3 linked regions of the Homo sapiens genome follow. The protein of the gene in region 2 interacts with the protein of the main gene of each other region in a pairwise test. Each region holds a gene or a part of one and is shown on either strand. Other genes may lie near its edges.

Region 1 (3,647 bases), on a different chromosome or scaffold from region 2:
TGAAAAATGGTTATCAATGAACAAATGAGTTAATGAACCGGTATTTGTGTTTAATGTCAATAGGATGAAAATATAAAGCACCTGAAATGAGTCTGGAATGGTCATCAACCCACCACAGGTCCAATCTGGTCTGCCTTCTAAGTTACATAAGATGGGCTGGGGTGATAGCTTAGTTGGAAAGCAGAACACACGTGAATCTTCCCTCTTCTCTGTTTAGCCTCTGTGTATTCACTAATACTATTGTAGAAATGGATCTACTTCAAGCACAGTTGTGATCACTAGCAGTCCCTATACCAGTAACTTCACACTGCCCTTTCCCTTCTGCCCTTCATCCCAGTGAGTCAGGGTTTAGTTTTCAAATCTCTAAAAGGTGAGAGAGAAAAACTCCATGAAGAGTTACAGCTGGATGGTGTATATTCTTACTCATGCTCTGCCAGTGCTCAATCCATAATGCTGGAAGTAAGCTATTTAGATGGTTACAGAAGCTCCCGTATTTCAGTATTTTTAGAAACAGTAATTTGTTTTTTATTTAATATGGAATTTTCTAGTTTATTCTTTTCGGCACTTCTTTCTACAAAATTATAATCTGAGTTGTAAATATGCTCTAGTTTTACATTAAACTAAAAATCAGACTTTCTGTTTCTAGTCTGGCATGCAAAAAACTTAGAAGTCACCACTCCATCCTAACAAGTAAAAGGCTGAGCAAACTGAAAAATCAACAGATATTCTTAATCTGTGGGAGAAGTAAGGTCACAGGGCAAACCACTGCCCCCGAAATAGGAGAGACAGGCAGGGTAATACAGAGCATCACCATTTACCATAGCAGACACCCAGGAGCTGAAATCTCTGTGGAACCAGTGCAGGGTAGGGAAACCTCAAATGTAACCAAGTGAATTGCTAAAGGCTCAGTGTGGACAAGTCTTAGAGAGAAAGCTCCATGGGGACTTGGTGAAGGGTGTCTGGGAAGAGTGATACCTTCCTGAGTTTTACCTTCTGGACCTCTACAACTTCCTCGTAGTGACAGTCAGAATAATTCCCTGGGTTGGAGGAGGGTGCAAAAGGAACCATTTTTAAATATGCCAGAGAATTCTGCCCTCAGAAGAAACTAACTAGAGTCTATCCTGCTGGGGTTTTATCAGAGCCTAACTAATTTGGGAGAAGAGAAATACCCAGCTCTAGCCCCTTCTAGCCATCTTGTCCCACCTAAGGCAGGGACTATGACTGAGAAGCACTGGTCCAGTTCATGATCCAGAGGCAGAGGCTCACAAAAAGACTAAAACCTCCATATTACCGAAGGCCCATTTCACACAGTTCCTGTATATTATGTCCACCTTTCCCAAAAAATTACAAGATGTACCAAAAGGCAAAAAAACAGTTTTTTAGAGCAAGCACAAAACTAGACTCAGATACGGCAGAAGTGTTAGAATGATCAGACTGGGAATTTAAAACATGATTAATATGCTAATGGCTCTAATGGATGAAGCAGACAGCATGTAAGAAGAACAAATGGGAATGTAATAAGAGAGATGGAAATTCTAAAAAGAACCAAAAAGAAATGCTAGAGAACAAAACCACTGTAACAGAAATAAAGAACGCCTTTGATGGGCTTACTGGTAACTGAACACGAATGAGGAAGGAATATCTGAGTTTGATGATATCTCAGTAAAAATCTCTAAAACTGAAAAGCAAAGACAAAAAAGACCAAAAAACCTTGGGAGGTTGAGGCGGGGGTATCACCTCAGGTCAGGAGTTCGAGACCAGCCTGGCCAACATGGCGAAACCCCGTCTCTACTAAAAGTACAAAAATTAGCCGAGCGTGGTGGCAGGCGCTTGTAATAATCCCAGCTACTCAGGAGGCTGAGTCAGGAGAATTGCTTGAACCTGGGAGGCAGAGGTCGCAGTGAGCTGAGATTGCGCCACTGCACTCCAGCCTGGCAACAAGAGCGAGACTGTCTCAAAAAAAACAAAAAACAAATAAACAACAACTACAACAAAAAAGCCCAAAAAACCCCATGAAATCTAAAAACAAAAAACCCCACCACAAAACAGAGTATCCAGAAACTGTGGGACAAACCAAAGTGTAACATACACATGATGGGAACAGCAGAGAAGAACAAGAGAAAGAAACAGGAAAAATATTTGAAATAATTATGACTGAGAATTTTCCAGAGTTAATGTCAGAAAAACTACACACATCTAAGCATATCATTTTCAAACTTCAGGAAATCAAAGATTAAAAAAAAAAACAAACAAAAAACTCCTGGCCAGACATACTGATTCATGCCTATAACTCCAGCACTTTGCGAGGCCAAGGTAGGAGGACTGCTTGAGCCCATGAGTTTGAGGCCAGCTTGGGCAACATAGGGAAACCCCATCTCTACCCAAAAAAAAAAAAAAAAAAAAAAAAAAAAGCCAGAGGGGGGAAAAAACAGCTTACCCACAGAGGAGCAAAGAAAAGAATTAAATGGCTGGGCGCGGTGGCTCATGCCTGTAATCCAGCACTTTGGGAGGCTCTGATGGGCAGATAGCTTGAGATAGCCTGAGCTCAGGAGTTCAAAATCACCCTGAGCAACATAGTGAAACCCTGTCTCTACAAAAAATACAAAAATTAGTTGGGTGTGGTGGTGTGTGCCTGTACTTCCAGCTACTCAGGAGGCTGAGGTGAGGGGATCACTTGAGCCCGGGAGGTCAAGGGTGCAGTGAGCCGAGATTGTGTCACTGTACTCCAGCCTGGGCAACAGAGACAGACCTTGCCTAAAAAAACCACACACACACACAAAACAAAGACAGAATTACATATCCAACTCCAACTTCTCAGAAACCATGCAAGTATACAGTGAAGTGAAATATCTAAAGCATAGAAAAAACCACCAACCTATAATTCTGTATGCTGTGAAATTATCCTTCAAAACTGAAGGAGAGGCAGGGCGTGGTGGCTTATGCCTACAATCCCAGCACTTTGGGAGGCCAAGGTGGGTGGATCACCTGAGGTCAGGAGTTCAAGATCAGCCTGCCTAACACAGTGAAACCCTGTCTGTAGTAAAAATACAAAAAAAAAAAATTAGCCAGGCATGGTGGTGGGTGCTTATAATCCCACCTACTCCGGAGGCTGAGGCAGGAGAATGGCATGAACCCGGGAGGCGGAGCTTGCAGTGAGTCGAGATCGCGCCATTGCACTCCAGCCTGGGCGAAAGTGCGAGACTCTGTCTCAAAAAAAAAAAAAAAAAAGAAAGAAAGAAATAAGCAAAGGTGAAATAAGAACCTTTAAAAAAATTTTTTTTCTTATTTACTTTTAGAGACAGGGTCTTGCTGTCACCTAGACTATAATACACTGGTGTGATCACAGCTCACTGCAGCCTTGAACTCCTTGGCTCAAGGCTATCCCTCCTGCCTTAGTCTCATGAGTAGCTGGAACTACAGGTATACCCCACCATGCCCAGGTAATTTTTGTATTTTTTGGTAGAGGCAGGGTTTTGCCATGTTCATGTTGTCCAGGCTGGTCTCAAACTCCTGGGGGCAAATGATCCGCCTACCTCGCTTGCTGTGATTACAGGTATGAGCCACCATGCCTGGACCAAGAAGAAATAATAATGTTTAATGGGTATGCACCTAACCGCACAGCAAAGTATGTGAGGCAGAACTGACAG
Region 2 (4,214 bases):
GAGGCAGGAGGATCACTTGAAGTCAGGAGTTCAAGACCAGCCTGGCCAACATGTGAAACCCCGTCTCTACTAAAAATACATAAATTAGCCCAGTGTGGTGGCACACAGCTCTAATTCCAGCTACTTGGAGGCTGAGGCAGGAGAATCGCTTGAACCTGGGAGGTGGAGGTTGCAGTGAGCCAAGATCACGCCACTGCACTCCAGCCTGGGTGGCAGAGTGAGACTCTCTCTCAAACAAACAAACAAACAAAAGTACCAGGGGAGGAATTAATTTGAATTTTATCCTAGTGTTAGCCAATTGGTCCCATCCAAGGAAAATTTAGAAAAGGGAAGGGGATGTGTAAAGGAAACACTAGGCCCCACCTAGATGGTGGCTGGAGCTTCTGATAGTCCTGTACTCTCCACATTTTTAGACTTTCTTGTACTTTTTTTTTTTTTTTTGTGACGGAGTCTGCTCTGTCGCCAGGCTAGAGTGCATGGGCACAATCTCGGCTCACTGCAACCTCTGCCTCCTGGGTTCAAGTGATTCTCCTGCCTCAGCCTCCCGAGTAGGTGGGACTACAGGTGCACGCCACCAAGACCAGCTAATTTTTTTTTTTTTTTTTTTTACTAGAGACGGGGTTTCACCATGTTGGCCAGGATGGTCTCAATTTCTTGACCTTGTGATCCGCCTGCCTTGGTCTCCCAAAGTGTTGGGATTACAGGCGTGAGCCACCGAGCCCGGCCATTTTTAGATTTTTTTTTATAGCCCTTTTACCCCTCCCACTTCTTGTGCTGTCTTGGTGTGTGTATGAAAAAGAGAGAGAGAGAGAGAGGAAGGAGAGCAAGAGTGAGAGAAAAAGAGAATATGGTTACTTAGCCCTTTTTCCCAAATCTGTTTTTGCTTTTGGGGATAGGATATGGTTATGGTGAAGTACTCCACACAGACCCCACCAAGTTTGCCTCTCCTGCGCTACAGCCACTGAGCAGGTGACTGAGGCGCTGTTGATCCAGGGTCATATCCTTACTCGCCCTAGAATGTAAGCTCAGGCAGGGCAGAGGCCATGCCTGACATGTGCATCCCAATGCTTTACACAGCCTAGGTGCCTAGCACATGCTAGATGCTTGGTAAATATTTGCTGAATGAAAGATCAAATGAATGATTGCAGCAAGCAAGTCCTGTAGGCATCCTGGAGCCCAAGGATTCTGCAGTAGGCAGCTTTCACAGAGGTTCTTCCAGTGTAGTGGCTCTAGCTCTGGGTGAAGTAGGATCATCAATGTCGGCCCCCAGGGTTCACAGCTGTTCTGAGCCCCGCCCCCAGGTGGCAGGGCAGCCCAGTCAGTCAGTCACGTGCTGGCGGCTGGCCAATCATCGGGGGCGGCGCGGGGAGGGGTGGTGTGGACGGAGAAAGTGAAAGGTGAGGCACGGCCCTGCAGATTTTCCAGCGGATCCCCCGGTGGCCTCATGTCGCGCAGTGGAACCGATCCTCAGCAACGCCAGCAGGCGTCAGAGGCGGACGCCGCAGCAGCAACCTTCCGGGCAAACGGTAACTGCACCGCGGCAGGGACTCGCTGGGGCGCGGAGCCGAGCCCTCCCCTTCCTTAGGAAGCTTTCGTCCCCTCCGAAGGTTGGAACGCTCATCCCGAGCCAGACCGACAAGGCGTACAGTCTGCAGGCCTGTACGAGCAGCAGGCCAATTGGCGCTGGGAAAGTCCAATCCTGGGCCTCTAGCTCCTGAGCGGGACAGGGCCGAGAGGGCGCTCCCGAGCTTGGGCCTGCTGGTGGGTGAGACCCAGGAGAGAGGGAGCTAGAGAGCTCTGAGGACTGATCTTGACTGTCTGCCCCCAGACCATCAGCATATCCGCTACAACCCGCTGCAGGATGAGTGGGTGCTGGTGTCAGCTCACCGCATGAAGCGGCCCTGGCAGGGTCAAGTGGAGCCCCAGCTTCTGAAGACAGTGCCCCGCCATGACCCTCTCAACCCTCTGTGTCCTGGGGCCATCCGAGCCAACGGAGAGGTAAGCCTGTAGAGCCCTGCATCTGCAGGCTGGGCCACGGGGAGTAGTTCCCTCTTAGAACTGTCCTCCACCCACAGGGATAGTGAACCTCCTTCTGGGTCATATCCCACCAAGCTTTTTGGTCCCCTAGGGTGGGCCTTCCCTACTCCCTTGTAGCCTGTCCAGTCTTTGAAGCCCACCAGGTAACTGGTGGTATGGGGCAGTGAGTGCTTCTAGCCTATCCTTGTCGGTAGGTGAATCCCCAGTACGATAGCACCTTCCTGTTTGACAACGACTTCCCAGCTCTGCAGCCTGATGCCCCCAGTCCAGGTAACCTGGCTCCAACTGCTGCTGGGGAGGAGGGTGGCTAGACCTCTTGAGGGACTTCTGCTGCAGAGAGTGATACTCCTTTACCTCAGGACCCAGTGATCATCCCCTTTTCCAAGCAAAGTCTGCTCGAGGAGTCTGGTAACTATGGATTTCCCCTCTTACAACTTTCAAACCAGAGTTGGAGACTCAGCATTGGGGTTCGGCCCTGCCCGTAGCACAGCCAAGCCCTACCTCTCGGTTATCTTTTCTCCCGTCACCACCCAGTAAGGTCATGTGCTTCCACCCCTGGTCGGATGTAACGCTGCCACTCATGTCGGTCCCTGAGATCCGGGCTGTTGTTGATGCATGGGCCTCAGTCACAGAGGAGCTGGGTGCCCAGTACCCTTGGGTGCAGGTTTGTGAGGTCGCCCCTTCCCCTGGATGGGCAGGGAGGGGGTGATGAAGCTTTGGTTCTGGGGAGTAACATTTCTGTTTCCACAGGGTGTGGTCAGGAGGGAGTTGACTTGGTGTCTTTTGGCTAACAGAGCTCCGTATCCCTATCTGATAGATCTTTGAAAACAAAGGTGCCATGATGGGCTGTTCTAACCCCCACCCCCACTGCCAGGTAAGGGTGTCAGGGGCTCCAGTGGGTTTCTTGGCTGAGTCTGAGCCAGCACTGTGGACATGGGAACAGGATTAATGGATGGGACAGAGGAAATATGCCAATGATGTGGAGGCTTGGAGGTAAAGGACCTGCCTGTTCTTCTCTGCTTTTGCCCCTTGACAGGTATGGGCCAGCAGTTTCCTGCCAGATATTGCCCAGCGTGAGGAGCGATCTCAGCAGGCCTATAAGAGTCAGCATGGAGAGCCCCTGCTAATGGAGTACAGCCGCCAGGAGCTACTCAGGAAGGTGGGAGAGAGCCAAGCCCTGTGTCCCCAAGGAGTCCCTAACTTTCTTATCCCATGAGAGAGGTGTGTAAAGGAGAAAGCTAGAGGTGAACTAGTAGAGAGAGACTTGCTAGGAGGCCTTAGCAATAATCCAGTAATCTAAAGGAAAGATGATGGTGACTTAGACTCGGGTGGTTAGTGGTAGAGGTGGTGAGAAGACATCAGATCCTGGGCACATTCTTTTCTTCTGCTTCCCTTGCCTATTTGCTGACCACACTCCGGCTCCTATGTCACCTTGATGACTTCCTATCCATTCTGTCTTCCTAGGAACGTCTGGTCCTAACCAGTGAGCACTGGTTAGTACTGGTCCCCTTCTGGGCAACATGGCCCTACCAGACACTGCTGCTGCCCCGTCGGCATGTGCGGCGGCTACCTGAGCTGACCCCTGCTGAGCGTGATGGTCAGTCTCCCAAGTAGGATCCTGGGGCTAGGCACTGGATGGAGGTTGCTCCCAGTAGGGTCAGCATCTGGACCCCAGGCTGAGAGTCAGGCTCTGATTCCAGATCTAGCCTCCATCATGAAGAAGCTCTTGACCAAGTATGACAACCTCTTTGAGACGTCCTTTCCCTACTCCATGGGCTGGCATGGTGAGGCTTTTCAAGTACCTATATTTAGCCCCAACACCATTTCTGGGCTCCTGGGGCTCAGCCTAGTGAACTGCAACCTCAAAGGAGCAAGCCTTGAAACAGTTGCTGGGGGAAGTGGCCAGAGTAGAGATGCTGGGACTGAGGGTGGAGCAGCAAACTTGGTGAAACTACATCTCCAATGTGCTTTCTAATCTCCTGCCAGCTCTTCTCAAGCAGGGGATCCTGGGAGATGTAGTTTTCAGATACCTGGTTGGGTTTGGGAGTAGGTGCTAACCTGGATAACTGTAAAAGGGCTCTCTCTCCCCACTGTCTCTCTTCTTTCTGTCAGGGGCTCCCACAGGATCAGAGGCTGGGGCCAACTGGAACCATTGGCAGCTGCACGCTCATTACTAC
Region 3 (3,647 bases), on a different chromosome or scaffold from region 2:
GCCTTTCATATCTTTAAATCATGAATCAAGGATAAGAAAACCTCCTGGTATAGTCCTTACTCTGCTTTTATTAGGATAAGAGGTCAGACAAGACTTTCTCATGGGAAGTCCCTGATGAACCTTAGTCACCCTAATTATTATTTATTATAATTTTTATTTTTTAACATTTTATTTATTTATTTATTTGTTTTTGAGATGGAGTCTCGCTCTGTTGCCCAGGCTGGAGTGCAATGGTGCAATCTCGGCTCACTGCAACCTCCGCCTCCCGGGTTCAAGCCATTTTCCTGCCTCAGCCTCCCAAGTAGCTGGGACTACAGGCATGCACCACCACGCTTGACTTTTTGTATTTTTAGTAGAAACAGGGTTTCCCCATGTTGGCCAGGCTGGTCTCAAATTCCTGACCTCAAGTGATCCACCCACCTTGGCCTCCAAAAGTGCTAGAATTAAAGGCATGAGCAACTGCACCTAGCCACGTTGATGATGATGATGATTATTATTATTATTATTATTATTATTTAGAGATGGAGTCTTGCTCTGTCACCCAGGCTGGAATACAGTGGTGATCACAGCTCCCTGCAGCCTCCAACTCCTGGGCTCAAGCAATCCTCCTGCCTCAGCCTCTCATATAGCTGGGACTAGAGATGTGCACCATCACATCAGGCTAATTTTTAAATTTTTTTGTAGAGACAAAGTCTCACTTTGTTGCCCAGGCTGGTCTCAAACTCCTGGGCTCAAGTGGTCCTCCCACCTTGGCCTCCCAAAATACTGGGATTATAGGCATGAGCAACCACACTCAGCCATCACACTGATTATTAGTTTGCATTTTTGAGTGATTTTGTTTATTCTAAGTGATATGATTTTTCATCCACGATAACAAGGGACAGTCATAAAATGAAGAAGGCCTACATTTTTTTCCACGATGGGGTCTCACTCTGTCACCCAGGCTGGAGTGCAGTGGCACGATCTCGGCTCACTGTAACCTCCACCTCCCGGGTTCAAGTGATTCTCCTGCCTCAACAGCCCGAGTAGCTAGGACTACAGGCGTGCGCCACCACGCCCGGTTGATTTTGGTATTTTTAGTAGAGATGAGGTTTCACCATGTTGGCCAGGCTGGTCTCAAACTCATGCCCTCAAGTGATCCACCCGCCTTGGCCTCCCAAAGGGCTGGGATTACAGGCTTGAGCCACTGCGCCTGGCCAACAGTCATATTGTTGATACCACACCTACTAAAGCAAACTCTTGGGAAAATACTGATTGAAGCAACAGCATGAAGCAAACCTTGTTTGCAATCCTTGCTATTTAGACTTTGCTGCCAAATGTGATTTCATACAAACAAGTTTCATATCAACAAGTCTTCTGTGTATCTAGCTTTACTCGGACCCACTCAATATTTGCATTTTCAGGGAAAAAGAAGACTGTCAAGTTGGCTGACCAAGGACAATAATGATCTCTTTCCTTAAAGTGCTAACTCCCCAGGAGGAATGGGAAAGGTGTGAAGAGGGGCTTCCCACACAGTGCCATCATGGGGAGCGGCTCAGCACTCCGAGCCACCTTCTGGGCTTGGGGAGCCCCTGGTCTTACCTCAATGATGTCTTCTGTCCCACAGTTCCCCCTGCAGTGGTTTGGAGTCCCTGCCATTCTGAAAGGCTGGTTTGAGCGAGTGTTCATAGGAGAGTTTGCTTACACTTACGCTGCCATGTATGACAAAGGACCCTTCCGGGTAGGTGGATGGTTCTGAATGCTCTGACAGCCAGCTTCTGGGTGGTCTGTCCTGATGCAGGGGTGTTTGTTTGTTTGTTTGTTTGAGATGGAGCTTCCCTCTTGTTGCCCAGGCTGGAGTGCAGTGGCGGGATCTCGGCTCACTGCAACCTCCACCTCCTGAGTTCAAGCGATTCTCCTGCCTCAGCCTCCCGAGTAGCTGGGATTACAGGCATATGCCACCATGCCCGGCTAATTTTGTATTTCTAGTAGAGACGGGGTTTCTCCATGTTGGTCAGGCTGGTCTTGAACTCCTGACCTCAGGTGATCTACCCGCCTCAGCCTCCCAAAGTGCTGTGATTACCGGTGTGAGCCACTGTGCCCGGCTCTGATGCAGGGTTTTGAGCACAATTAGATCCTAAGCCTAGGCTCCAGGTCCTTCGGGAGAGACGCATGATCAAGTTTTTACAGATGGAATGACATGATGTTTGGGATTTGTTTTAAAATGCTCCAGAGGCCGGGCGCAGTGGCTCACGCCTGTAATTTCAGCACTTTGGGAGGCCGAGGCAGGCAGATCACCTGAGGTCAGGAGTTTGAGACCAGTCTGGCCAACATGGCGAAACCCCGTCTCTACCAAAAATACAAAAATTAGCTGGGTGTGGTGGCGGGCATCTACAATCCCAGCTACTCAGGAGGCTGAGCCAGGAGAATTGCTTGAAACCCAGGAGGTGGAGGTTACAGTGAGCCAAGATCGCGCCACTGCACTCCAGCCTGGGCAACAAAGCAAGACTCCATCTTAAAAAATAAAAGGCCAAGCACGGTGGCTCATACCTGTAATCCCAGCACTTTGGGAGGCCGAGGCAGGCGGATCACAAGGTCAGGAGATCAAGACTATCCTGCCTAACACGGCGAAACCCCGTCTCTACTAAAAATACAAAAAAACTTAGCCGGGTGCGGTGGCACGTGCCTGTAGTCCCAGGTACTCGGGAGGCTGAGGCAAGATAGTTGCTTGAACCCGGGAGGCAGAGGTTGCAGTGAGCCGAGATCGCACCACTGCACTCCAGGCTGGGTGACAGAGCGAGCCTCCATATCAAAAACAAAAACAAAAAAAAAATTAGCCGGATGTGGTGGTGGGCACCTGTAATCCCAACTATTTGGGAGGCTGAGGCAGGAGAATCACTTGAACCCGGGAGACAGTTTGCAGTTGGTTGAGATGGTGCTACTGCACCCCAGCCTGGGCAACAGAGCCAGACTCTGTCTCACAGGAAAAAAAAAATGAAATAATAAAATAAAATAAAACGCTCCAGAGAAAAAGGGGGTCATGGGTCGAGCTAAAACTAGAATAGCAGAATACTGAGAGGTGAAGGTGAGTGATAGATGCAGCACTATTTTCTCATTTACATGTGTTAAAAATTTCCATAATAAAAACAAAAGAAGGCCTGTCTTCATTTTTTGGAGGCCCAAATCCTGCACAGGGAACCCTTCGAGACCTTCCAGATGAAAGAGCTTGTCCTACGCCATGCCTAGCCCGTGGGAGGATGGATAAGAACAACCAATAACTCCACCTAGGCAGCCAGCAGCCAGCACTGATTTTGGATATGGTGACAGCCTCGTCCTAAGCCACATGTGGGGGTTTGGAATCCTTCATTTGCCCCAGGCCACCGGTCTGTAGACCATCTAGGCTGGCACTCCTGCAGAGTCATATTATGTAGCTCAGGGGAGCCAAAGTATGAAGTAATATAAACAGCAAATAGGACAGACTTGTGTGTTCTTTTCCCTGGAGCTGTTTCATTAACTTCTTGTCACCAAGGGGATGTGGAGGGAAGTGAAGTTTGTTATTGCTTTTTCTTTTGCAGAGTAAGAAGGCAGTGCTTTCCATCACCACTGGTGGCAGTGGCTCCATGTACTCTCTGCAAGGGATCCACGGGGACATGAATGTCATTCTCTGG

What was found.
Region 1: the proteins of GALT (region 2) and UBTD2 interact in binary tests that used the Homo sapiens proteins (3 or more experiments, as listed by UniProt).
Region 3: the proteins of GALT (region 2) and NQO1 interact in binary tests that used the Homo sapiens proteins (3 or more experiments, as listed by UniProt).

Annotation. Positions count from the first base shown.
Region 1 is NC_000005.10:172,214,209-172,217,855, forward strand, and holds part of UBTD2 (ubiquitin domain-containing protein 2), read right to left. Parts: intron 1-3,647.
Region 2 is NC_000009.12:34,645,261-34,649,474, forward strand, and holds the start of GALT (galactose-1-phosphate uridylyltransferase), read left to right. Parts: upstream 1-1,414; 5' UTR 1,415-1,444; coding exon 1,445-1,526; intron 1,527-1,828; coding exon 1,829-1,998; intron 1,999-2,231; coding exon 2,232-2,307; intron 2,308-2,396; coding exon 2,397-2,445; intron 2,446-2,571; coding exon 2,572-2,701; intron 2,702-2,854; coding exon 2,855-2,911; intron 2,912-3,073; coding exon 3,074-3,196; intron 3,197-3,501; coding exon 3,502-3,634; intron 3,635-3,737; coding exon 3,738-3,821; intron 3,822-4,149; coding exon 4,150-4,214. UniProt on the Homo sapiens protein: Plays an important role in galactose metabolism.
Region 3 is NC_000016.10:69,713,037-69,716,683, reverse strand, and holds part of NQO1 (NAD(P)H dehydrogenase [quinone] 1), read left to right. Parts: intron 1-1,606; coding exon 1,607-1,720; intron 1,721-3,554; coding exon 3,555-3,647. UniProt on the Homo sapiens protein: Flavin-containing quinone reductase that catalyzes two-electron reduction of quinones to hydroquinones using either NADH or NADPH as electron donors.